2 separate regions of the Homo sapiens genome follow, and region 1 is reported to be linked to region 2. Evidence: microRNA targets listed by miRTarBase, many of them from high-throughput screens and not tested one by one. Region 2 holds a microRNA gene; the other region holds the end of a gene's coding sequence.
Evidence for each region. The annotated mature microRNA hsa-miR-3620-3p reads UCACCCUGCAUCCCGCACCCAG and lies in region 2 at 1,640-1,661, shown strand. An mRNA with a match to its seed (bases 2 to 7 or 8) in the 3' UTR can be bound and repressed. Matches are read on the target gene's strand: a 7mer-m8 pairs with bases 2 to 8, a 7mer-A1 pairs with bases 2 to 7 and ends in A, and an 8mer does both.

Region 1 (3,000 bases), not on the chromosome of region 2:
CGCCACAGCCCGCCCGCCCCGGCTCGGCTGCTGTGCCGGGGGCAGCCTTCGCGCCCATCCCGCGGAGCCCGTTGCCCGCCGGTCCTTCGTCCTGCACCAGTCCCCGGAGCCCGCTGCCCGCGCCTCCCAGGCCCTTCCTCTACCGCCGCTCGCCCACGGACTCCGACGTGTCCCTCGACTCCGAGGACTCCGGGGCTAAGTCTCCAGGCATCCTGGGCTACAATATCTGTCCCCGCGGGTGGAATGGCAGCCTTCGGCTCAAGCGTGGCAGCCTCCCCGCCGAGGCCTCCTGCACCACCTAGAGCCCCACCCCCGACCCCACCCCGGGAGGGCAGAGCCAGAAGAAGGCTCATTAGACCTGGGGGACCCAAAGGGTCTGGCCTCTTTGGGCAGCCCCAGAGATGAGGGGTCAGCAGAGGAGAGCTCTGGGGTTGGGGATGGGTTAGGGACGCAAGCTTGAGTTCTAGCCCTTGCTCTCATTCAGCTGTTGTGTGACCCTGGGTAAGACCCTTCCTTGTTTGACCCTCAGCTTTCCCATCTGTTTAATGGTGGCTTTGGCCAAGGCAATCCACAAACGTCAAAATTCCCCTTCCCATCAGTACACACACCGATGCACACACACTCTCTCTTTCTCTCTCTCTCTCTCTCACACACACACACACACACACACACACACACACACACACACACACTAGTTAGTGCCTTGGATGAGGCGGGGCAGTGTGTATATGGACCCCTGGACTTGCTACCTTCAGGGTTCCATACTCGTCCCTCCCCTCCTGGCTCTGCTGTCTGGAGTCTGGCAAGCGGGGTGTGTTCAGAAGGTCCTAGGCCTGTGTCGCATGTCCAGGCACTGGCCTGACCATCCGGCTCCCTGGCACCAAGTCCCAGGCAGGAGCAGCTGTTTTCCATCCCTTCCCAGACAAGCTCTATTTTTATCACAATGACCTTTAGAGAGGTCTCCCAGGCCAGCTCAAGGTGTCCCACTATCCCCTCTGGAGGGAAGAGGCAGGAAAATTCTCCCCGGGTCCCTGTCATGCTACTTTCTCCATCCCAGTTCAGACTGTCCAGGACATCTTATCTGCAGCCATAAGAGAATTATAAGGCAGTGATTTCCCTTAGGCCCAGGACTTGGGCCTCCAGCTCATCTGTTCCTTCTGGGCCCATTCATGGCAGGTTCTGGGCTCAAAGCTGAACTGGGGAGAGAAGAGATACAGAGCTACCATGTGACTTTACCTGATTGCCCTCAGTTTGGGGTTGCTTATTGGGAAAGAGAGAGACAAAGAGTTACTTGTTACGGGAAATATGAAAAGCATGGCCAGGATGCATAGAGGAGATTCTAGCAGGGGACAGGATTGGCTCAGATGACCCCTGAGGGCTCTTCCAGTCTTGAAATGCATTCCATGATATTAGGAAGTCGGGGGTGGGTGGTGGTGGTGGGCTAGTTGGGCTTGAATTTAGGGGCCGATGAGCTTGGGTACGTGAGCAGGGTGTTAAGTTAGGGTCTGCCTGTATTTCTGGTCCCCTTGGAAATGTCCCCTTCTTCAGTGTCAGACCTCAGTCCCAGTGTCCATATCGTGCCCAGAAAAGTAGACATTATCCTGCCCCATCCCTTCCCCAGTGCACTCTGACCTAGCTAGTGCCTGGTGCCCAGTGACCTGGGGGAGCCTGGCTGCAGGCCCTCACTGGTTCCCTAAACCTTGGTGGCTGTGATTCAGGTCCCCAGGGGGGACTCAGGGAGGAATATGGCTGAGTTCTGTAGTTTCCAGAGTTGGCTGGTAGAGCCTTCTAGAGGTTCAGAATATTAGCTTCAGGATCAGCTGGGGGTATGGAATTGGCTGAGGATCAAACGTATGTAGGTGAAAGGATACCAGGATGTTGCTAAAGGTGAGGGACAGTTTGGGTTTGGGACTTACCGGGGTGATGTTAGATCTGGAACCCCCAAGTGAGGCTGGAGGGAGTTAAGGTCAGTATGGAAGATAGGGTTGGGACAGGGTGCTTTGGAATGAAAGAGTGACCTTAGAGGGCTCCTTGGGCCTCAGGAATGCTCCTGCTGCTGTGAAGATGAGAAGGTGCTCTTACTCAGTTAATGATGAGTGACTATATTTACCAAAGCCCCTACCTGCTGCTGGGTCCCTTGTAGCACAGGAGACTGGGGCTAAGGGCCCCTCCCAGGGAAGGGACACCATCAGGCCTCTGGCTGAGGCAGTAGCATAGAGGATCCATTTCTACCTGCATTTCCCAGAGGACTAGCAGGAGGCAGCCTTGAGAAACCGGCAGTTCCCAAGCCAGCGCCTGGCTGTTCTCTCATTGTCACTGCCCTCTCCCCAACCTCTCCTCTAACCCACTAGAGATTGCCTGTGTCCTGCCTCTTGCCTCTTGTAGAATGCAGCTCTGGCCCTCAATAAATGCTTCCTGCATTCTTCTGCCTCCTGTGTCATTTTCAGCTGTGTCTGATGTCCTTCCCTTCTCCCCAAGCATGGAGCAGTCCATGGGACTCTGGGTGGCTGGGAATATTTGAGACATATGGGATGGGAGCTTGGGAAGAAGCAGCCATGGGGAGAGATGGGAACAACGGACAACTTGAGGCCATAGAAGTACCTGGACTGCAGTCCTGGTCCTGTCATGGACGAGCGGGGTGACCCTGGGTGAGCCCACTCCTTCTCTAGGCCTCAGCTTCCCCATCCGTATAATGGGGAGAGTGGGTCTAGGTAATGTCTCAGGGTGGTATTGTCCAGGCCCTGACCACAGAGCACTATCACCAGAGTGGGCAGGGCCAAGCTGGGTCAGGGCTCTGTGCTCTGAGGCTGTTTCCTCATGGCAGGTGGGGGTGCCAGGGCAGGAAAGGCGCCACTGTAAGAGGTCCCGTCTGAGCCAGGCAGCCCCAGTGAGGCAAGGACTCGGGCCATGAGGCATCCTCTCCTGGCAGGAGTGTCCTTTGGCCAGAGAAGGGGATTGTGATCCTGCTCCCAGGTGAGGCTAAGCTTGCCCTGGGAACAC
Region 2 (3,451 bases):
TTTCTCTGCCTGGTCAATCATCACATCCAAGGTCTTCCTCCCTTTTCTCTCTGCCCTTCAAGGCGTGTGTGTCATTTTGGTGTCTTCATTGGTAGTGGTTGCAGGAGTGGACTGAGAGGGCAGGTATTCAGTCTCTTCTGTGCTCCATGGGTGGTGGTCTTCCTCTGGGCTTAGAAAACCTGGCCGTCCCCAAAAAGGGAACACTACAGTGAAGGTCCTTATAAATTTCAGAACTCATTTAAATTTCAGAATAGGTGACATGTTCAAAACCAAGAGCAAAGTGTCCAAAGGACACTGATCCAGCTTGAAGGGGTTCTGTGGCTCATCTGGGATGATGGCAGTGTTAAATCAGACACGGGCGGCCAGTTCACACCCACTGAAACACACAGGCATGTGTGGGCTCTTGCTGATGTTGAGAAATGGAGAAGAGGCATTTCCTTGCCGTAGCGTGCTGGGGTGACTGGATGAGAGAGTCACCAGCGGACAGTCATGGCTGTGATTCAGCCAAAAGCCACCTGTGTGTGGAACCCCTGGTGGAGGAGGTCTGATGAGGGGTGGGTGTGCTCACAGGCTCCTGGCATGTCCTCTTGAAGGCAGAAGCCTTCCTCACTCGGGGTAAGCCCCGCTTGCGGGTGCAGTGAAGAAGCAGTCATTGTTTCAGAAAGTGACCAGTGTTTTCTAAAGTCCCTGTTCGGGATAAAATCACCTGATTCGTGAAATTGCCCACTGGCCAGTGAGGCCAAAGCCTAACAACTTCAGTGTCCTCACAGAGGCGTCTGGGCAGTGGAGGCCCTTCCTGCTGGAGTCTCCGCAGGGCTCTGATGGTGGGTGCCAGCTGACTTAATTGCTGTCCCCGATATTTGTGTTCTGCTGAGGGAACCCCTACCCTTGCGGTGTGGGGCAGACATGGCGGGCGTGCCCCATCGAGGCTGTGTCCTCATGGGAGTGTGTCCCTGAAGGTGTCCTGCTGAGTCTGGCGTGGCCCTGTGTGCTCTGGTCCTTGTGAGTGTGGGCAGGCACAGTGAGTGGTGCTCTCTGGCCCTGGAAGGTTCTGTGTTGGGGTGTAGAGGAGCCTTGCACGCACCTGGAAGCCAGTCCTCAGGCAGCCAGCCTCCCCTCCTGCATAGGCTGGGATGAGGCAGCCTTTCTGGCCATGCAGCTGTGGGGACAGCTTCCCAAGATGAGGGCAACAGTTTCTCAATTCCTGACTCAGCCATTTTCCCTCAGCCCCCATCCTGAGGTGGATTTGGGGGGCATGGGAGGCAGGGCTCTTTCCCTGTTTCCCTGCAGGCTTCCAGGAGGTGGGGTGAGGCAGTGGTGCATCCCTGGGTGGGTGGGTTCTGAGCAACCACTGCTGGGCAGCACAGAACCAGACATGGAGCACCTTGTCTCTCCAGGTGTCCCTGGCCAGTGTCCTTCCACCTGTCCACAAGCATGGGGAACATCTTCGCCAACCTCTTCAAGGGCCTTTTTGGCAAAAAAGAAATGCGCATCCTCATGGTGGGCCTGGATGCTGCAGGGAAGACCACGATCCTCTACAAGCTTAAGCTGGGTGAGATCGTGACCACCATTCCCACCATAGGTGAGGTGGGGGCCAGCAGGGAGTGGGCTGGGCTGGGCTGGGCCAAGGTACAAGGCCTCACCCTGCATCCCGCACCCAGGCTTCAACGTGGAAACCGTGGAGTACAAGAACATCAGCTTCACTGTGTGGGACGTGGGTGGCCAGGACAAGATCCGGCCCCTGTGGCGCCACTACTTCCAGAACACACAAGGTAAGTGGCTGGGGCCTGGTCCCATGGGCACTCCTGCTTCTAGAGAGGGGGGGCCAGCCCATAGATGGGGCATCGATGCCCATAGATGCGGCAGGGGGGCTGTGTTCCCATGACCATTTGACACTGGCTGCCCGGCAGGCCTGATCTTCGTGGTGGACAGCAATGACAGAGAGCGTGTGAACGAGGCCCGTGAGGAGCTCATGAGGATGCTGGCCGAGGACGAGCTCCGGGATGCTGTCCTCCTGGTGTTCGCCAACAAGCAGGTAGGCGCCCGGGCCAGCCTGGGGAATGTGAGGAGCCAGTGTGGGTTCCGCCTGGTGGTAGGGGTTACTGGAGGCTGGTGGGGCCCCTTTCTCTGTCCTGTGGACAGCCCTTCCCACCAACCCTTCCTTCCCCCAGGACCTCCCCAACGCCATGAATGCGGCCGAGATCACAGACAAGCTGGGGCTGCACTCACTACGCCACAGGAACTGGTACATTCAGGCCACCTGCGCCACCAGCGGCGACGGGCTCTATGAAGGACTGGACTGGCTGTCCAATCAGCTCCGGAACCAGAAGTGAACGCGACCCCCCTCCCTCTCACTCCTCTTGCCCTCTGCTTTACTCTCATGTGGCAAACGTGCGGCTCGTGGTGTGAGTGCCAGAAGCTGCCTCCGTGGTTTGGTCACCGTGTGCATCGCACCGTGCTGTAAATGTGGCAGACGCAGCCTGCGGCCAGGCTTTTTATTTAATGTAAATAGTTTTTGTTTCCAATGAGGCAGTTTCTGGTACTCCTATGCAATATTACTCAGCTTTTTTTATTGTAAAAAGAAAAATCAACTCACTGTTCAGTGCTGAGAGGGGATGTAGGCCCATGGGCACCTGGCCTCCAGGAGTCGCTGTGTTGGGAGAGCCGGCCACGCCCTTGGCTTTAGAGCTGTGTTGAAATCCATTTTGGTGGTTGGTTTTTAACCCAAACTCAGTGCATTTTTTAAAATAGTTAAGAATCCAAGTCGAGAACACTTGAACACACAGAAGGGAGACCCCGCCTAGCATAGATTTGCAGTTACGGCCTGGATGCCAGTCGCCAGCCCAGCTGTTCCCCTCGGGAACATGAGGTGGTGGTGGCGCAGCAGACTGCGATCAATTCTGCATGGTCACAGTAGAGATCCCCGCAACTCGCTTGTCCTTGGGTCACCCTGCATTCCATAGCCATGTGCTTGTCCCTGTGCTCCCACGGTTCCCAGGGGCCAGGCTGGGAGCCCACAGCCACCCCACTATGCCGCAGGCCGCCCTACCCACCTTCAGGCAGCCTATGGGACGCAGGGCCCCATCTGTCCCTCGGTCGCCGTGTGGCCAGAGTGGGTCCGTCGTCCCCAACACTCGTGCTCGCTCAGACACTTTGGCAGGATGTCTGGGGCCTCACCAGCAGGAGCGCGTGCAAGCCGGGCAGGCGGTCCACCTAGACCCACAGCCCCTCGGGAGCACCCCACCTCTGTGTGTGATGTAGCTTTCTCTCCCTCAGCCTGCAAGGGTCCGATTTGCCATCGAAAAAGACAACCTCTACTTTTTTCTTTTGTATTTTGATAAACACTGAAGCTGGAGCTGTTAAATTTATCTTGGGGAAACCTCAGAACTGGTCTATTTGGTGTCGTGGAACCTCTTACTGCTTTCAATACACGATTAGTAATCAACTGTTT

Region 1: miRTarBase lists SYNPO as a target of hsa-miR-3620-3p. Seed matches in the 3' UTR shown: 7mer-m8 at 1,487-1,493 and 7mer-m8 at 1,992-1,998.

What each region holds. Positions count from the first base shown.
Region 1 is chr5:150,656,786-150,659,785 of GRCh38, forward strand. SYNPO (synaptopodin) reads left to right here. Exons shown (of 3, transcript NM_007286.6): 3 at 1-2,422. The coding sequence ends at 302. Among named protein-coding and RNA genes, the nearest start is that of MYOZ3, 3.0 kb to the right of the region's middle. RefSeq lists a silencer at 1-16.
Region 2 is chr1:228,095,681-228,099,131 of GRCh38, forward strand. MIR3620 (microRNA 3620) reads left to right here and starts at 1,583; the gene lies at 1,583-1,661. ARF1 (ARF GTPase 1) reads left to right here. Exons shown (of 5, transcript NM_001658.4): 2 at 1,398-1,582; 3 at 1,662-1,772; 4 at 1,911-2,035; 5 at 2,172-3,451. The coding sequence starts at 1,435. The coding sequence ends at 2,333. RefSeq lists enhancers at 530-1,499, 1,500-2,469, 1,556-2,755.